Linked DNA regions of Homo sapiens. The protein of the gene in region 2 interacts with the protein of the main gene of each other region in a pairwise test. Each region holds a gene or a part of one and is shown on either strand. Other genes may lie near its edges.

Region 1 (7,350 bases), on a different chromosome or scaffold from region 2:
CGGTCAAGGAACTAAAGTAAAAAGGTTAAAATTATACATCACTGTGCATTTCCAGGAAAGAAAAGTGAAACACATTTTACCAGACAGAGAAGTTAAAAACAACCAGGTTCATTTTTCCCATTCCTGTAAATTCACTCCCCTTATTTGTGAATCTTCAAGAATCTAGTATAGCCCCTCCCTACCTTTACTCAGGTAAAAGACCAATCACTCATCAATTGCCAAAACGCCTTGACAGTTTAAGGTCTCAATCCTCAGAGTCAGCAAAGCTGAAGTGTCTATGTCCTTTTAAAAGGAGTCTGCATCTCTACTTTAGAAACCATTTTCTCACTGCGCTTGGTGGCTTACGCCTGTGATCCCAGCACTTTGGGAGGCCGAGGCAGGCGGATCACCTGGTTCGAAACCAGCCTGACCAAAATGGCGAAACCCCATCTCTACTAAAAATACAAAAACTAGCCGGGCATGGTGGTGGGTGCCTGTAATCGCAACTACTTGGAGGCTGAGGCAGGAGAACTGCTTGAACCCGGGAGGTGGAGGTTGCAATGAGCCGAGATTGCGCTACTGCACTCCAGCCTGGGCGACAGAACAAGACTCTGTGTCAAAACAAAATAAAATAAAAAGAACCCATTTTCTCTTTCCATAAACACATAGTTTGTCCTCTGCTTTGTCTACATTAAAAAACACGTCTCAGGAGTGTTTCTTCAGCCTCTCAGGAAAACCAAGACACCTCTTGGGCTCCTCTTCTGAGATATTCCACCTGAGAGATCCCACTGACAAGCAGGGTAACAAAAAGCAGAGCTAGAGGGCTGCCTTATGCATATCTGACCTCCAAAACAGCGACAGGTCCCCGGAGCAGCCAGAGACTCCTTTGCAAAGGAGAACTTTTTATAATTTAAAAATAATAAAATGGGCCAAGCACGGTGGTTCACGCCTGTAATCCCAGCACTTTGGGAGGCTGGGGCGGGCGGATCACCTGAGGTCAGAAGTTTGAGACCAGCCTGTCCAGCAATGGAGAAACCCCGAGTGTACTAAAAAAAATACAAAAATTAGCCGGGTATGGTGGCACGTGCCTATAATCCCAGGTACTAGGGAGGCTGAGGCAGGAGAATTGCTTGAACCCAGGAGGCGGAGGTTGCAGTGAACCAAGTTCGCACCACTGCACTCCAGCCTGGGTGACAGAGCAAGACTCCTTCACCCACCTCAAAAAAAATTATAATAAAATAAAATAAAAATAAAGATAACAAAATAGCCAGGCACGGTGGCTCACGCCTGTAATCCCGGCACTTTGAGAGGCCGAGGTGGGTGGATCACCTGACGTGAGGAGTTCAAGACCAGCCTGGCCAACATGGTGAAACCCCATCTCTACTAAAACTACAAAAATTAGCCAGGCGTGGTGGTGGGCATTTGTAATCCCAGCTACTCAGGAGGCTGAGACAGGAGAATCGCTTGAACCCGGGAGGCGGAGGTTGCTGTGAGCCGAGATGATGCCACTGCACTCCTGCCTGGCGACAGAGCGAGACTCCGTCTCAAAAATAAAATAAAATATAATAAACAAATTATATTTTCACATCCCTCACTGGGCAGCCCTCCCAGCTTGTCTCAAACTAGTTTTCTTAACTCTTTTTTCCAGACGGAGTCTCGCACTGTCACCCGAACTGGAGTGCAATAGCACTATCTCGGCTCACCGCAACCTCTGCCTCCCGGGTTCGAGTGATTCCCCTGCCTCAGCTTCCCAAGCAGCTGGGATTACAGGCGCCCGCCACCACACCCGGCTGATTTTTTGTATTTTTAGTAGAGACGGGATTTCACTACGTTGGCTAGGCTGGTCTCCAACTTCTGACCTCGTGATCCGCCCGCCTCGGCCTCCCAAAGTGCTGGGATTACAGACATGAGCCACTGCACCCGGCCTTTTCTCAACTCGTTAAAGCACATTAGTGCCAACTGTGTTATAAGGCAACATGAGTTAGCTATGTTCAGAAAATATTTTAATAGATTGGCCCTCCATCCTTTCGGGTGAGGAGCTGCAAACCGTTTGTAAAAACGCCGGAGTACGGTATTTTTCCTACAGAAGTCTGATGGCTAATTTATCACATTACAGAACTGGTAGTTCTGCACATGGTCTGCTGTGCCCATAAAGAAAGCACATATGTGTCTACTGAGGTTTTACAAACAATACGCTTCTTATCTTAACAGAGAAATCAGTCATTCCATTAACAACGGTAAGGTCTAAATTCCACTAACATTGTTGGTGATACATTAACATCAACATAGTACTTACAATTCACAATTTGCATAAACAATCTCAATTACATAGGTGATGCTTGCAATAGCCCGTTTGAAGCATGACATCTTCCTGGTGTTCAGAAAGGTTAAGTGGGACCTGCCCAAGGTTACCTAACAGCTTTATCAATGGTGGACTTCCTTTCGAACCTGCCTGACTCTAAGCCCCTAGCTCTTTTCCCTAGACCCCTCCCGGCTTTCAAAAGAGGGTTCCCGACTCCCATCCTCTACCCAGAGCAGCCTATTACTCCGGGAGACCGACCCTTCCCCTGCCTGGTTCAGAGGTGGCTTCTTAAGCTCCAGCAGAGCTTTCATCCTCCACCACCCTCCCCCCGCAATCATTCTCTGAAAGAAGCGGAAAGGAGAGGCGACCAAAAGCTCCTGGAGGAAGGGATGATACAAATGGGCTGCTTCACTCCACAGCACGCAACCCCGTCCCCCTCCACCAAGCTGTCCAGCTCTGCGGCCGGCGACCGGGCCACCCGTGCCCCAAATTCTCCCATCATCACCTCAAACTGTACCTCCCCCACGCCCTTCCGTCTCCCACAGTCAGAGCCCACCCCACAAAGTCATGTATCCTTCCGCTAAGTTACCCTCTTCCCACGCGTTGTCCACTCCCCCTCCACCACTACTCACGGTCGGTGACTGGGCCCGGCCCTCATGGCTGCTCCTTTGCCGCCCGCCGCCCGCCGCCACCACTTCTCCACTGCCCGGCCCCTCAGTCACCGGCGCAGCTGTGGGGACTACCCGGAGCCGCTCCTGCGCCTGCGCAGCGTGTAGCGCCTGGGCCCTTTCGGGCCGCACGCGCCTGCGCAGCCCCTGCCGGGGGCGTCTTCCTCAGTGCCTGATGGTCTGGACCCCTGGGTCTCTAGTGGACATGGGAGCTGGCCTTGAAGAATTCTGAGGCTTAGAGAATTTGGCGGCTGCCTCAGGGTACGCCTCTGGAGTACCGTGCCTAGGTTACTAAACCCTTGGATCGCGCTTCCCCAAGGAGCCACAGACTTACTGGCTCTTCCAGAATTCTGCATCCTACTTGCACTTAAAGGCCTGAATTCAGGTGCTCTGAGGTGACCACTGATGATAAATTTGGGTCTTTTTTTTTTTTTTTCTGAGTCGAAGTTTCGCTCTTGTTGTCCAGGTTGGAGTGCAATGGCGTGATCTCGGCTCAAACAACCTCCGCCTCCCGGGTTCAAGCGATTCTCCTGCCTCAGCCTCCCGAGTAGCTGGGATTACAGGCATGCACCACCACGCCCAGCTAATTTTGTATTTTTAGTAGAGACGGGGTTTTATCATGTTGGTCAGGCTGGTCTCGAACTCCCGACCTCAGGTGATCCACCCACCTCAGCCTTCTAAAGCGCTGGGATTACAAGCATGAGCCACCGCGCCCAGCCTGGGTCTTTTTTTTTTTTTTTTTTTTTTGAGACGGAGTTTTGCTCTTGTTGCCCAGGCTGGAGTGCAGTGGCGCGATCTCAGCTCACTGCAACCTCCGCCTCCCGGGTTCAAACGATTCTCCTGCCTCAGCCTCCTGACTAGCTGGGATTACAGGCTTGCACCACCACGCCTGGCTAACTTTTGTATTTTTAGTAGAGACGGGGTTTCACCATGTTGGCCAGGCTGGTCTCGAACTCCTGACCTCAGATGATTCGCCCGCCCCGGCCTCCCAAAGTGCTGGGATTACAGGCCTGAGTCACCATGCCTGGTAAAATTTGGGTCTCTTTCAAGATGATCGTGTCTAGAATGTATCGGGGGTAATTATGTAAAGGCAGCTTTGCCATCCTAGAATACGCTACTAGCTAGGAGGTGCAATGAAGTCCTGGGGACCTTGTCAAGGAGGTGACCTCGCCTAGAATGCACTGGGGACACCGCTAAGTTCAGTATGTTTATCAAGCACATGCTGTTTATTGGACAGAAATGTTCTAGGCATCGCGTGTATGCTATTGAGGAATTCGCAGGCAAATAGTCCCCTGCTTTCCAGCTCTCACTGTGAGCCTGGCCCTTTTTCAAACTGGTAAAAGAAAACCACTAAAGTCCAGTGAGGCCCAACTGTCAGTCCCTAGACTACTGTGCTGCTTTGGCATAGCCTGACAAGAGACTAAGCTCAATCGAGTCCTGAGAATTCAACAAAACAGACTTGAAAGCAGCAGGCAAGAGGAGGTACAGGACTAAACTCTCTCCTCATCACCATGGCTCTTTTTTCTCTCTCAACTCCAGCGCTGGTCTCCTCTCTTCAGAGTTTGGACACATAAGGCCCAAGATACAACGTAAGGGGGAAAAAGAGAAGAAAAAAAGACAAGTTGAGTGCTCAATGAGGAATGTTAAAAAAATTTAAATAGGCCAGGTGCAGTGGCTCACGCCTGTAATCCCAGCACTTTGGGAGGCCGAGGCGGGCGGATCATGAGGTCAGGAGATCGAGACCATCCTGGCTAACACGGTGAAACCCCGTCTCACTAAAAATACAAAAAATTAGCCGGGCGTGGTGGCGGGCGCCTGTAGTCCCAGCTACTCAGGAGGCTGAGGCAAGAGAATGGCGTGAACCCGGGAGGCGGAGCTTGCAGTGAGCCGAGATCAAGCCACTGCATTCCAGCCTGGGCGACAGAGCGAGACTCCGTCTCAAAAGAAAAAAAAATTAAAAATAAAGCTGGGCATAGTGACTTATGCTTGTAATCCCAACATTTTGGGAGGCCAGGTTGGGAGGATTGCTTGAGCCCAGGAGTTAGAGACCAGCCTGGGCAACATAGGGAGACTCATCTCTACAAAAAATCTAAAAAATAGTGGCCAGGCAAGATAGCTCATGCCTGTAAACCCAGCACTTTGGGAGGTTAAGGCGGGCGGATCACTTGAAGCCAGGAATTCGAGACCAGCCTGGCCAACACGGTGAAACCCTGTCTCTACTGAAAAAATACAAAAATTATCTGGGCATGGTGGCATGCACCTGTAGTCCCAGCTACTCAGGAGGCTGAGGCAGGAAAATCGCTTGAACCCAGGAACGGAGGTTACAATGAGCCGAGATCGCACCACTGCACTCCAGCCTGGATAACAGAGTGAGACTCCATCTCAATTAAAAAAATAAATAGGGCCGGGCGCGGTGGCTCAGGCCTGTAATCCCAGCACTTTGGGAGGTCGAGGTGGGCGGATCACGAGGTCAGGAAATCGAGACCATCCTGGCTAACACGGTGAAACCTCATCTCTACTAAAAATATAAAAAATTAGCCGGGCATGGTGGCGGGCCCCTGCAGTCCCAGCTACTTGGGAGGCTGAGGCGGGAGAATGGCGTGAAGCCCGGAGGCAGAGCTTGCAGTGAGCCAAGACGGTGCCACTGCACTCCAGCCTGGGGACAGAGCGAGACTCCATCTCAAAAAAAAAAAATACAAAAATACAAAAAAATTGGCTGGGCGTGGTGGTGGGCGCCTGTAGTCCCAGCTACACGGGAGGCCGAGGCAGGAGAATGGCATGAACTGGGAAGCGGAGCTTGCAGTGAGCCGAGATCGCGCCACTGCACTCCAGCCTTGGCGACAGAGCGAGACTCTGTCTCAAAAAAAAAAGGAAAAAAAGAAAAAATAAATAAATAGGCCAGGCACAGTGGGTCACACCTGTAATCCCAGCACTTTGGGAAGCCGAGGTGGGCAGATCATAAGGTCAGGAGATCGAGACCATTCTGGCTAACACGGTGAAACCCCATCTCTACTAAAAATACAAAAAATTAGCCGGGCATGGTGGCGGGTGCCTGTAGTCCCAGCTACTTGGGGGGCTGAGGTGGGACAATCAATTGAACCCGGGAGGTGGAGGTTGTAGTGAGCCAAGATTGCGCCACTGCAATCCAGCCTGGGTGACAGAGCAAGGCTCCATCTCAAAAAGAAAAATAAATAAATAAATAAGGGTTGGGCCTGGTGGCTCACGCCTGTAATCTCAGCACTTTGGGAGGCCAAGGCGGGTGGATCACGAGGTCAGGAGATCGAGACCATCCTGGCTAACACGGTGAAACCCCGTCTCTACTAAAAATACAAAAAATTAGCTGGGCATGGTGGCGGGCGCCTGTAGTCCCAGGTACACAGGAGGCTGAGGCAGGAGAACGGCGTGAACCCAGGAGGTGGAGGTTGCAGTGAGCCGAGACCATGCCACTGCACTCCAGCCTGGGCGACAGAGCAAGACTCCATCTCAAAAAAAAAAAAAAAAATTAGCTGGATGTGGTGGTGCACACCTGTGGTCCCACCTACTTGGGAGGCTGAGGTGGGAGAATCACTTGAACCCAGGAGGCAGAGGTTGCAGTGAGCCTAGACTACACTACACCGCAGCCTAAGGAACCGAGTGAGACTGTGTCTCAAAAAAATTTTTTTAATTAAAAAAAAAATGTTCAGGCCAGGTACGGTGACTCACGCCTGTAATGTCATCACTTTGGGAGGTGGAGTAGGCGGAGTTTGAGACCAAGCTGGGCCACATGGTGAAAACCCGTCTGTACAAAAAAATTACCAAAAAATTAGCCGGGTGTGGTGGCCCGCATCTGTAGTCCCAGCTACTTGGGAGGCTGAAGAGCGAGGATTGCTTGGGTCTGGGAGGCGGAGGTTGCAGTGAGATTCAACCATTGCACTCCAGCCTAGGGGAGCCAGACTCCATCTCAGTAAGAATAAAATTTTCCTCTTAAAAAAGAAAAGAAAATCCTCTATTAACCCCACAGCCCTCTCCTGCTCAATATTGGTCCTCAATATCCAAGGGTTCAGCATCTAGGAATTCAACCATCCGAAGAACAAAAATATCTGGGGAAAGGCCAAACGTGGTGTCTCATGCCTGTAAACTCAGCACTTGGGGAGGCCAAGGCAGAGGACCATTTGAGGCCAGGAGTTCGTGACCAGCCTGGGCAACGTAGTGAGACTCTGTCTCTGCAAAAGATTTAAAAATTAGCGCTGGGCGTGGTGGCTGACGCCTGTAATCCCAGCACTTTGGGAGGCCTAGGTGGGTAGATCACCTAAGGTCAGGAGTTCGAGACCAGCCTGACCAACATGGAGAAACCCCATCTCTACTAAAAATACCAAATTAGCCGGGCATGGTGGAACATGCCTGTGATCCCAGCTACTCGGG
Region 2 (7,029 bases):
GCATCACCAAGAGCTACCACGTAAGTCATTCTACTGCCTGGGAAGTCCATGGGACCAATTCCTGGCAATAATTCAATTAGAATTCAACCACAATCCTTCCCCCACTGAAATGAAGTACCTAACATTTTATGTATAGGATCAGTCACGTTTTGTAAGAATTATCAAATGCATACACAGCAGAAATTTAAACTCTTGATTAAGAACCTAACTAAATCCCTTAATGGACAAACAGATCCCATGCTAGGTCCATTTTAGCTCAACTTGTTTCTCTAACTCAGCTGGCAGCTTAGTCATTGAATGATGAGGCCCCACACACTTTCAAGTACAAAACAAAGCTATGAGCACACCAAGACCAAAACTACTGACAAAAGGCAAGCACAAGAATGAAGACACAGTCTACTGTTCCCTGCTTTCAACAGTCAGGAACTACCGTCCTTATTCCAATGAGACATAGTCTACTGTTCCCTGCTTTCAACAGTCAGGAGCTACAGTCCTTCTTATTCCAATGAGACACAGTCTACTGTTCCATGCTTTCAACAGTCAGGAGCTACAGTCCCTCTTATTCTAATGAGACACAGTCTACTGTTCACTGCTTTCAACAGTCAGGAGCTACTGTCCTTCTTATTCTAATGAGACATAGTCTACTGTTCCCTGCTTTCAATAGCTGAGAGTTAGCGTCCTTCTTATTCTAATGAGACATAATCTACTGTTCCCTGCTTTCAATAGCTGAGCGTTACCGTCCTTCTTATTCTAATGAGACACAGTCTACTGTTCCATGCTTTCAACAGTCAGGAGCTACCGTCCTTCTTATTCCAATGAGACACAGTCTACTGTTCCCTGCTTTCAATAGCTGAGAGTTACCATCCTTCTTATTCCAGTGGAGCGTGTGTAATGACAAACGGAATTACCTAAGTGAAAAAAACTAGAATAAAATGATATGGTATCTTTGCAGTACAATAAACTGACTCCAAATTTGATACAAAACAGCATGTCAATTCACACAAGCCATTTGGAATTCTTAAGAAATAACCGTTTTGAAATCTGTGGTTCTCTAAGACTTAAGGCACTTAAATACTTAAATAAGAAGCTAAGAACAATCTGTCTCCTGCGGCTCCTATTTCTTATCAGGGCCTAAAACAACTAAATAGAAAGACAAGCACACCCCCTTTAGCACTTCCCATATTCCTAATGCTTTCCCTCGTAGAAACTCGCTGATTCACCACCTGCCCAGGTGCTCTGGGACAGAGGGCCACAGGCAGGAAGATGCTGGCCCCATTCTCGGCACATTCGCACCCCCCATGGAAGTGCTGAAGAGAGGACGCCACTACGGGCTGAGATTAAATCTGACATAAGAGACATTAATGGATTGGCTATTTTCCCAACATTTACATACACAGCAATCATTTAAAGGTGACTTCCTCATTTTCACCAAGCCACTATGCCAAATAAGGCAGCTCAAGCAGATATTTTCATAACACCGACCCCACTGGGATATACATTCCCAAGGACAGTCAGTGAAACAGATTTATTACAAAAAATGTTTCCTCCTAATGGGATGAGAAAACAGAATGGCTCTGGATGATGACCTCTCCTTCAAAATAAAGTCAAATTTAAGATGAGAAAAAGTTCTGCAGTTCACCCCAATCCTAACAACCTGTGTTGTACAGCAAAATTATGTTTGATGAGAACAATCAGTGGTAAAGATGGCTATAAAACTCTGCTCAAAGCCTAGCTAAAGAAAAATGTCTTACACAAAACATCAAAAAAACTTAAACTCAGACACAAAGAAAATTTGTATTTTTCCTTATAGATACAGATCAATACTAAGTAAGCTCCAAATTTGATATCGTCTCATAAGTTCATTTAGATTTTTTTGTTTTTATGACCCTGGACTCCCCAGAATTACCAAGTTTTTTTGCCTTAGCTAACACAGTTTCAATCAAACAAACATCAGGCCTGAAGGGGGTGGCCAGATCTATGTGGGGATTTATACAAAATCCACATCCAAAAATAATTACAACAATTAGTCTGTCGTTACTGCAATGTGATTTTCAATTTCTATGAAAATGAAATCAGGAGCATCCCTCCTTTCCTCAAATTTCATGTGTGAAAAACTCCATTGCCCTGATCCTGCAATTAATACATACACAAAAACCTGCACCTCAACGTTCACAGCAGCATTCCTGACAACAGCCAAAAAGTGCAAACCACCCAGATGCCCATCAACTGATGATGGATCAACAGAATGAGGGCCATCCATACCTCGGCACATCACGCAGCCATGAAAAGGAACAAAGCACTGGGCAAAAGCTACAATGTGGGTGATGCCACAGGATTCCATTTAGAGTCAAGGTCCACAACAGGCACATCCACGAGGACGGAGATGAGCTGGGTGCCGGGGCTGGAGGCTGGGAGAATGGAAAGTGACTGTTGATGGGCACAGGGCTTCTTCTGGGGGTAATAAAAAATATTCTAGAATTAGTCCGAAGTGATGACTGTACAACCTTGAGAATATACTAAAAACAACTGAGACGTATGCTTTAAAACAGTCAATTTTATGGTATATAAATTAGATCTCAACTTGGAAAAAAAAAAAAGATCAACTCAACGTCTCTTTCTCTCTTCCCTCCATTCTGCCATCTGAATCCTAGCAATTTGTATTAGAGGTAAAAGCAATTTTTGTGGAAGACATTGTTTTCAATGTTTCAGATACGGTAATGAGTCTTCCTAACAGGAAAGCCTTTGTTCACTAGACAAAGCAACATCGAGTTGCTAGGAAAAATCAACAACTCAGACGCAGATGCAGAAAAACTGAGTTCTTCCTAGTAAGCAAGGAAAACACATGCTTTACAACTCCACGCACAAAGCTAAGTCTGTTTGGTTCTTTCTTTTCTCCACGCTGTAGTCACTGACAGTCATCTGGTCACTTACGGTGACAGGATGAAGGGCACACAGAGGCTCTCAGGGGAAGACGGCTCTGAAAGGCACACTGGGCAGGCCGAGGGCCAGGCGGGAGGGCACCTCAGAGCCCTGCAGGAGAGAGGCCCCCGCTAGGAGTCCAAGTAGGACAAACAGCTTCACATCCTTCCAGATCTCGGGGGAAATGGGCAATGCATCCTGTGCCATGGAACCCGTGGAAGCTGCGTCCTCTAGCCCAGCAACCTGCCTCTGAGAGCCCACGTCCAGACACTGATCCAAGAGACATGAAAACACAGCAGGCCAATGCTAGTTTCAATAACGAAAGGTTAGAGGGGGCCATCCCTGGAAAGCATCCAGACCTGATGAAATAAGCAAAACTGGCTAAAAATGACTCTGTCCATCTGCACTAACGTGGAAAGATTTCTACTGTGTAGGGGAAAGAAGTGAGTTATAAAATCATAAAATGTGCACCAAAAAACCCCAAAAGGTTTAGAGATCTCAGAATGGTGGGATCACAGTTATTTTCCCTTTAATCTTCATGTTTATACTGTATCACTATCTTTTTTTTTTTTTTTTTTTTTTTGAGACAGAGTCTCTGACGCCCAGGCTAGAGTACAGTGGTGCGATCTCAGCTCACTGCAACCTCTGCCACCCAGGTTCAAGCAATTCTCCCGCCTCAGCCTCCCAAGTAGCTGGGATTACAGGCACCTGTCACCGTGCCCAACTAATTTTTGTAGTTTTAGTAGAGATGGGGTTTCACCATTTTGGCCAGGCTGGTCTTGAACTCCTGACCTCATGATCCACCCGCCTCAGCCTCCCAAAGTGCTGGAATTACAGGTGTGAGCCACTGAGCCTGTCCTATACTGTATCACTTTTTTTTTTTTTTTGAGATGGAGTTTCCTCTATTGCCCAGGCTGGATGCAATGGCATGATCTCGGTTCACCGCAACCTCCACCTCCCAGGCTCAAGCGATTCTCCTGCCTCAGCCTCCCGAGTAGCTGGGATTACAGGCACCTGCCACCACACCCGGCTAATTTTGTATTTTCAGTAGAGACAGGGTTTCTCCATGTTGGCCAGGCTGGTCTCGAACTCCCGACTTCAGGTGATCCGCCCGCCTCAGCCTCCCAAAGTGCTGGGATTACAGGCGTGAGCCACCGCGCCTGGCCACTGTATCACTTCTTTAAAAAACAACAAAATTTCTAAAAGGCAAAACAAACAAACAATTGTACTGGCGCTCTGGCCGAGGAAAGCCGCCCTGGACGCACCTTCCGAGTTCAGGGTGATGAGCGTGACGTTGCTCCCGATGCTCTGACTGCCCGCCTGCCCACAGCTGGACACAGAGTCGCTGGCCTCCGAGCCGCTCTCCCCGTCCTCGTGGTGGCTGTCTTCTTGGCCCGGCACCTTCACCACAATGGTGTTCTGCCGACGCCCAGGCACAGCGCTAAACGGGAAAAAAAACACACCAGCCCGATGTGGTAAGAGCCGCAAGCAGCACGCGAAGGTCAGCGCTTTCCTTATCGCAAAATCTAACTCTGTGTGGACCAGTGGATCACACAGCCTTCCCATACTGCTCTCTCTACCAAGATTAATAGAAACTCCATGGGAGAAAATGGCCTGGGGCTGAAAGAAACTGTATAAAATAAAACTTAACCATTTAAAGAAAATGTTTGTATCACAAAAGGAGTAAAATCATACTCACTGGGACTCAGGCCTAGCATGCTGCCTTCTGAGTTCAGTAGTCATCCCATAAAATGCTGGTAAGAGTCTTTTTTCCGGCGAGGTTAAAGGGAAGACTAAATGAGGAAAACTGTGCCCAGAGGCCTGGGTCAATTCGATCCACGCTGCTGGGCTCGCTGGAGATGGCTCCCCCTCGCAATGCGAGCAGCACTCCCACGTACGCCCACGGGCAAAAAACCCTGACGGGGCTTAAAAAACCCACTGAGATCCCATCGGAGCTGCCATCATCCCAAGGGCTGCTGATGTGGAAGGACAGAACACTGCTAGCAAAGCAGGGCGAGGCCACCTCCACAAGTGCTCAAAAAAAAGGATGATTTAGAGACTTACTACTTCCCTTTTTTAGTGACCCTTTCAACATCCTCTACCGTGGACTGCTACGCACCAGCAGGAGAAAGGAGCACAATTTCTCTATATGCAAAGTCAAAAAAAAGGGTGTTGAAAACACTGGCCGCACCCAGAGGAGGGCGCTGCACTCTGCACTTTCTGGCCTGGATTCTCTAGAGCGCTGTCCACGCTGAACCTGATCTCAACACTGGCCATCTGCCTGGCTGACCTCAGTGCAAAGCCCCTGAGGCACAGCTGACCCTGGCACCTCCTCACCGCCCATCACCAACTCCTCTCCCTTCACCCCACGTATCAGACCCTTGCGACCACAGCTGCGGCCCTGGAGAACTGAGCTAAGACAATACAGAAAGGGGACGAAGCTGGAGGAGGAGGAATCCACAAAGGAGACTGAGAGAAAAAGCAAATAGAACTTTGTGAAGACACAGATGGGAAAGAAAAAGCAACAGCATCCTCAGGGGTTCACGCAGCCCCAGGGGCACTCCTGGGGACAGCAGGGCTTGGATGCCAGCCAGAGGCCACTGCACAGCCTTCCCCTCACACAGAGCGGGGACGGTGTCTTCTGTCCACTCCCACCTCTGACCAAAGTTCCATTCAAAATGTCTCAAGAGAAAAAGGTATAAGAAAAAAGTCATAAACTCAACATGCCTGCACCACTTAGCAACCGTGGGAGAGGGCGTCTGTTTGCCTGACACGCTCTGCACAGACAGACGTGAGGACCACTGAGCTAGGTGGGAGGATGAACGCTTTCACAGACTGCTGTGAGGAGACAGAGCCAGCCCCCTCCACAACCCCGGCCAGCACGAGACACAGAAGTCCCCGGCGGCAGCTGCCCCTGGTGTGGCTGGACTCAGCATTCAGCATCGCCCAGCCTGCCCTCCCCGACCTCAGAGAGCTGGGGCGGTGCCTGCCAGGCTCAACCCTGTGACCACAGAGATGAAGCGTGTGCTGGACTGTGCCCTGGCTTAGGGACGTTGACTTATTCTCATGGGACTCCGCACAGTGGCAGGGAAAGGTGGGGTTGGTGCCGTGCTACTGACTTGCTAATGACATTTTCCAGGGAATCCGGTGCCCTGTTGCTCAAGGGGTCTTCCATCTTGGCTACAATGGCGTTCTGCCGATCATTGTTGAGTATTACTGTAGTCTGGGGGACGACGCTAGGGAACAAAAGAATCACAAAGAAAAAGAAGGCCTTAAAACAACAACATTCATGGTAAGAGCACATAAGAGTCATTCAACACAGTCCACTCCCAGGGACCCGCACTGAGGGGGAGGCCTAAGAGTCATTCAACATAGTCCACTCCCAGGGACCCGTCCTGAGGGGGAAGGAGCCCCAAATGCTAAGGAAGAATAAACTGGAGATGGGGTTTTTAGCAGAACGTAACTTTTCCTAATTGTTGGTGATCTGTCTGCACAACTGGATAGCACAGGACAGCTGGGCTGAGGATGCTGAACTTGTGACAGAATAGACTGCAACCGCACCAGCTGTTATCGCACCCAGTTAATAAAGCTTCTAGGGTGGCACACTTGCATGAGAACTGGCTTGACATTTTCAGTCACTCCATCCCAACTCATTCCTATGGGACAGATCTAACGTTCGTAACCACGTAAGTGTTGGTATCATTCCAAAACGGTAGCGCCCTGGAAAGAAAGGGGCAAACATCACGTTGGACTTGGGATGGAAGGACACACATGCTGCCTCCAGGTCCTGCAGGAACATGTGTGAGCTACAACCAAAGGGCTCAGGGTTCTGCTTTGAAGGAAAAGATTCTACAAAAGAACAGACCATGGCCCAGAAACCAGCAAGCCTGGCGCCACCCTGGAGGAAGCACGAGTGTGTTCAGACAGGCGGCAGCTAACACAGCTTCATCTCAAAGTACAGACTCACCCACAGTTTTCAATCATGCGTTTTTAAGCCTTAGCACTTTCTGGTCACAAGGGATATCTAAGGTCCGCTTTGTTGTGGAAGGCTGGGGAGAGAAAGAACTAGCACTAGAAACACAACGTGATTATCACCTGACAATAAAACTC
Region 3 (5,887 bases), on a different chromosome or scaffold from region 2:
AGCAGACAAACTCATATACCATCTTTAAGTCTTGGCCAAAGGATAACTCACATTCAACTTCCCCCATGTCTCAAGGAGTATCTCATTTGATTTAAATGAACCATATACAGGCTGGAAGCGGTGGCTTATGCCTGTAATCCCAGCACTTTGGGAGGCCAAGGTGGGCAGATCATGAGTCAAGAGATCGAGACTATCCTGTAGTCCCAGCTACTCAGGAGGGTGAGGCAGGAGAATCGCTTGAACCCGGGAGGTGGAGGTTGCAGTGAGCCGAGATCGCACCACTGCACTCCAGCCTGGTGACAGAGCGAGACTCCGTCTCAAAAAATAAAAACAAAAAATGAACCATGCACAACAAGCAACACATAAAAAAACTCATGGAATAACATGAGAGCAGCTCACCCCGCCCGCTACCAAAAACAAAACAAAACAAAAACAAACAACAGGGAAGGAGTTCTTGTATCTGTGTGCATGGTTTCTATTTGTATTGTAAACAAAAACAACAAATAAGATACTATGAATGCATTTTTTAAGCTTTATAAAGTTTATGTAGTTAATAACGATGTCATCATGTTAGTCATGAAGTTACATCTCAGTTCATAAACTGCAAGACATCTTTGAGTAGAGATCCATCTCATTTTCCGTAACTACACAGTGATCTACTAAACTGATTTTCTGTAACTTAAGTAACCCATAACTTTAATAGCACTAAACATTTTTTCCAAATTTTTCACAATTCTGCAACACATTTGCTTATGCATCTATATTTCTGCACTTGTGCTTTTTGAGAACATAACTGACTAGGTGTAGAATTGTGGCAAAGGGTAATTATATTCAAAATGCTGACAGGTAACACCACATTGCCCTCTAAAATGGCTTTCCTCTAATTTACCCTCTCAATATTTGAAAATACGGTTTCTCACACCTGCGACAATACTGGATATTATCCAAACTTCACATTCACATAAAATTTCTGCTGGTTTGTGTTGGTGGGGATGAGGACTTTTACAATCTGCACTTATCTGATCATTAGTGAGGTTGAGAACTTCTTCTATTTAACCATTTTAATTTCTTCATCCAATAAATTTTGTTGACATGCTCTGCAAGACTGTGCACCTTATCCTTGCTGCTTTCCAACAGCCCTTTTTCAAGGGCTATATCCTTTCTAATGTATGTTTAAGATATCTCTCAGCCTGTCATATGCCTTTTAACTTTGCATACAGTATCTTACGCCATGAAAAAGGTTTAAATCTTCTACACAGTCCTGTCATTCTCTCTTCATGGCTTCTGGACCTTGTCCTGCTTATCAAAGACCTCCTGAACCTAAAGGCACAGAAATACTCTACATTCTCCTCTACCATCTTAACCTCTTACATCTGTAATGAGTATAGAATGAACTTCTGTGTAAGGAGTCAAATGGGATGCTGACTTTATTTCTAGTTGGACAACTGTCAAAGACATTTAATCTCCCCCAATGATACATCGAAAACACTTTTCAAATATAAAAAACCCATGGATACGACCTTCTACAAAACCTCCCTTCTGATTCCTGCCTAATTAACACTCAACATGAATTTCAGAACTGTCAATGTAAAAGTAACTTACAGGATTACAATATTGAAACATTCATGTAGGATCATGTTATGGATCTCCATTTATTCACAGCCTCTGTTCTCCATCAGCAGAGGCTAATAATTTCCTTTTGTATATAACTAAGTAAACTCACCTATAATTTCATTTCTTTCCCCTTGGTTTGATATCAGAGTTGACTTAGCCTCATGAAAGAAGTGGAACATTTTAAGTGTTTTTTTTAAAAAAAATATACTCCAGAACAACTTTACTAGTGGAACAACTTTACTTGGAAGGTTAGAATAAATCTGTGAACCCACATGTTGAAATAGAACTATATTATTCAATTTCTCTTTCTTCAGTTAAACATTAGTGATTTTTTTTTACTTGACTAAATAAAGTCTTGTATATATTCCCCGCAGGAATTCTAATTCTTTTGTTCGTTTTATCCAGAGCTATATAGCCACTTCTTAAAACATGTTCTATTTATCAAGTCATAATTAATTTCCTCACCAACAAGGGAACACAGCCTTAATCATGAGACAGCCGCTGTGATGTCTTATTATAATATTAAATGTTAAGCATACTACATGTGCTAATCACCATCTACCTTAAGATACTGTTTTAAGTCAGGCTGGTTGCCTGTAATTGCAGCCACTTGAGAATGAGGTGGGAGGGTCACTTGAGCACAGGAGTTTGAGACCACCCTGGGCAACATAGAAAGACACCATTTAAAACTTTTTTTTTAGCTTAAAAAAAGATACTGTTTTGGTTCCAAAATTTTTATGACTGCCATACTGCTTTCAAGAATGCACTGTTTAAAAATAATTTACATCAATTCTGGAGAATACTTATCTAACATTTACTAAGCACTTAGTATGAGTTGGTCATTTTGCTAAGCACTTTATGTACATCAAGTATTTTAACTAGAGTTTTAAGAGTAACTTAATTTGCATTTTTGAAAGGTCACTGTGGCTGTAATGTTAACTCGAAAGGGACAAAAGAGGATGAAGTTTTAGAATTCATGGGTATGCAACCCATTGAATGTGAGGACTTTTTTGCTTATCGGAGGTGGTGTATCACTAAAACTATGCACAGACTTTTTTTTTTTCTTAGCTCATCAGCTATTGTTAATGTTAGTGTATTGTATGTGTGGCACAAGACAATTTTTCTTCTTCCAATGTGGCCCAGGGAAGACAAAAGGTTGGACACCTGTGTAATGATTGAAATAGTCCAGGTGAAATGACTGTGTTTTGGACTGGGGAACCAAAAGAAGTGGATAAATTCCAAAAATATTTAGCAGATATATCCACAGGACTTGGTGATGTAGTGGGTGAGGAAGAGCTGGCTGCCTGAAATGAACTCACTAATGAGCAAGGTGTGCATCTTGTCTGAGGACATTTGCACATTCTTTACATTGTTAAGACCGCTCTGCAGTATGAATTCTTCCCTGTAAAGCATTCAATCTGGCTGAAGGTTTTTCTTCTGTATGCTTCACGAAGTTCTCATGCTGTGTTTTTCAGCTCCATCAGGTCATTTATGTTCTTCTCTAAACTGGTTATTCTAGTTAGCAATTCCTCTAACCTTTTTTCAAGGTTCTTAGCTTCCTTGCATTGGGTTAGAACATGCTCCTTTAGCTCAGAGGAGTTTGTTATTTCCCACCTTCTGAAGCCTACTTCTGTCAATTTGTCAAACTCATTCTCTATCCAGTTTTGTTCCCTTGCCGGCAAGGAGTTGTGATCCTTTGGAGGAGAAGAGGCATTCTGGTTTTTGGAATTTTCAGGCTTTTTGCACTGGTTTCTCCTCATCTTCGTGAATTTATCTACCTTTGGTCTTTGATGCTGGTAACCTTCAGATGGGGTTTCTGTGTGGATGTCCTTTGTTGATGTTGATTATATTCCTGTTAGTTTTCCTTCTAACAGTGAGGCCCCTCGGCTGCAGGTCTGCTGGAGTTTGCTGGAGGTCCACTCCAGACCATATCTGCCTGGGTATCACCGGTGGAGGCTGCAGAACAGCAAAGATTGCTGCCTGTTCCTTCCTCTGGAAGCTTTGTCCCAGAGGGGCACCCACCAGATGCCAGCCAGAGCTCTCCTGTATGAGGTGTCTGTGGACCCCTGCTGGGAGGTGTCTCCCCGTCAGGAGGCATGGGGGTCAGGGACCCACTTGAGGAGGCAGTCTGTCCCTTAGCAGAGCTCAAGCGCTGTGCTGGAAGAACTGCTGCTCTCTTCAGAGCTGGCAGGCAGGAATGTTTAAGTCTGCTGAAGCTGTGCCCACAGCCACCCCTTTCCCCCACGTGCTTTGTCCCAGGGAGATGAGGGTTTTATCTGCACTTTTTTCAAAGATGCGCTGCCCAGAGAGGAGGAATCTAGAGAGGCAGTCTGGCTACAGAGGCTTTGCTGAGCTGTGGAGGGCTCTGCTCAGCTGGAACTTCCCCATGGCTTTGTTTACGCTGTGAGGGGAAAACCACCTATTCAAGCTTTGGTAATGGTTGGCGCCCCTCCCCCCACCAAGCTTGATCATCCCAGGTTGACTTCAGACTGCTGTGCTGGCAGGGAGAATTCCAAGCCAGTGGATCTTAGCTTGCTGGGCTCAGTGGGCATGGGAACCACTTGGCTCCCCGGCTTCAGCCCCCTTAACAAGGGAGTAAGCGGTTCTGTTTCACTGGCATTCCAGGTGCCACTGGGCTATCAAAAAAACTCCTACAGCTAGCTCGGTGTCTGCCCGAATGGCCGCCCAGTTTTGTGCTTGAAACCCAGGGCCTTGGTGGCATAGGCACCCAAGGGGGATCTCCTGGTCTGTGGGTTGCGAAGACCATGGGAAAAGCGTAGTATCTGTGCCGGAGTGCACCATTCCTCATGGCACAGTCCCTCATGGCTTCCCTTGGCTAGGGGAGGGAGATCCCCGACTCCTTGCACTTCCCAGGTGAGGTTACGCCCCACCCTGCTTCAGCTCACCCTCCGTGGGCTGCACCCACTGTCTAACCAGTCCCAATGAGATGAGCCAGGTACCTCAGCTGGAAATACAGAAAGCACCCACCTTCTGCGTTGATCTCACTGGGAACTGCAGATCAGAGCTGTTCCTATTCGGCCATCTTGCCAGCCTCCTGGCTGAAGGTTTTTCTACATTTCTTACATTTATATGTTTTTTATCCAGTGGGACATCTCTGATTAACAGTAGGGGATTGGTGATAACTAAAGGCTTGGCCACATGCACTACATTCTTAAGGTTCTTCTCCAGTATGACTTCTTTGATGACAAATTAAGGATAACTTTCTTCTGAACGCCTTCCCACATTCAAAACACTGATAGGGCCTTTGGCCAGTGTGGAGTCTTTGATGCTGAGCACAGGATGAGCTATCACTAAAAGCCTTTCCACATTCAGTACATTTATAGGGTTTCTCTCCAGTATGAATTCTTTGATGTTGAGTAAGATTGGAAGTTTGGCTGAAGGCTTTCCCGCATTCATTACACTCATAAGGTTTCTCTCCTGTATGAGTTTTCTGATGTTGGGCAAGGTGTGATCTCTGTTTGAAAGCATTTCCACATTCAATACATTCATAAGGCTTCTCTCCAGTATGAATTCTCTGATGAGTAGCCAGCTGTGAACTGATTCTAAAAGCTTTTCCACATTCTTTACATTCATAGGGTTTTTCACCAGTATGAATTCTCAAATGACTAACAAGGTGTACATTCTGCCTAAAGGCTTTCCCACATTCCTTGCATTCATACGGTTTCTCTCCAGAATGTACTCTTTGATGCTGAGTGAGTGATGCATGATGGCTAAAATCTTTCCCACATATATCACATTCATAAGGTTTCTCTCCTGTATGAATTCTCTGATGTACAGTACGGGATGAACCCGAGCTGAAGGTTTTTCCACACACACCACATTTGTAAGGTTTCTCTCCTGTATGAATTCTCCTATGCAGAATAAGTCCTATGTGAACACTGAAGGCTTTCCCACAATCAATGCAATTAAAAGGCTTCTCTCCAGTATGATAACTCCTCCAGTGACGAATAAAAGATGTGTTATACCTAAAAGCCTTCCCACACTCAATACATTCATAGGGTCTTTTGCCAGTGTGACATCTCTGATGTCGAGCAAAAGACGAGCCATCACTGAAGGCTTTGCCACATTCTTTACATTCATAGGGTTTCTCTCCAGTATGAATTCTCTGATGCTGAGCAAGGTGTGCAGGCTGTCTGAAGGCTTTTCTGCATTCCTTACATTTATATGGTTTTTCTCCAGTATGAATTCTTTGATGCTGAATAAGGTGTTCACTTTGTTTGAAGGCTTTCCTACATTCTTTACATTCAAAGAG

What was found. The genes of interacting proteins can lie anywhere in the genome.
Region 1: the proteins of BANP (region 2) and FAM222B interact in binary tests that used the Homo sapiens proteins (3 or more experiments, as listed by UniProt).
Region 3: the proteins of BANP (region 2) and ZNF471 interact in binary tests that used the Homo sapiens proteins (3 or more experiments, as listed by UniProt).

The regions. Positions count from the first base shown.
Region 1 is NC_000017.11:28,839,769-28,847,118, forward strand, and holds the start of FAM222B (protein FAM222B), read right to left. Parts: upstream 3,023-7,350; 5' UTR 2,914-3,022; intron 1-2,913.
Region 2 is NC_000016.10:88,003,421-88,010,449, reverse strand, and holds part of BANP (protein BANP), read right to left. Parts: intron 6,156-7,029; coding exon 6,039-6,155; intron 4,361-6,038; coding exon 4,185-4,360; intron 1-4,184. UniProt on the Homo sapiens protein: Controls V(D)J recombination during T-cell development by repressing T-cell receptor (TCR) beta enhancer function. Binds to scaffold/matrix attachment region beta (S/MARbeta), an ATC-rich DNA sequence located upstream of the TCR beta enhancer.
Region 3 is NC_000019.10:56,524,848-56,530,734, reverse strand, and holds the end of ZNF471 (zinc finger protein 471), read right to left. Parts: coding exon 4,787-5,887; 3' UTR 523-4,786; downstream 1-522. UniProt on the Homo sapiens protein: May be involved in transcriptional regulation.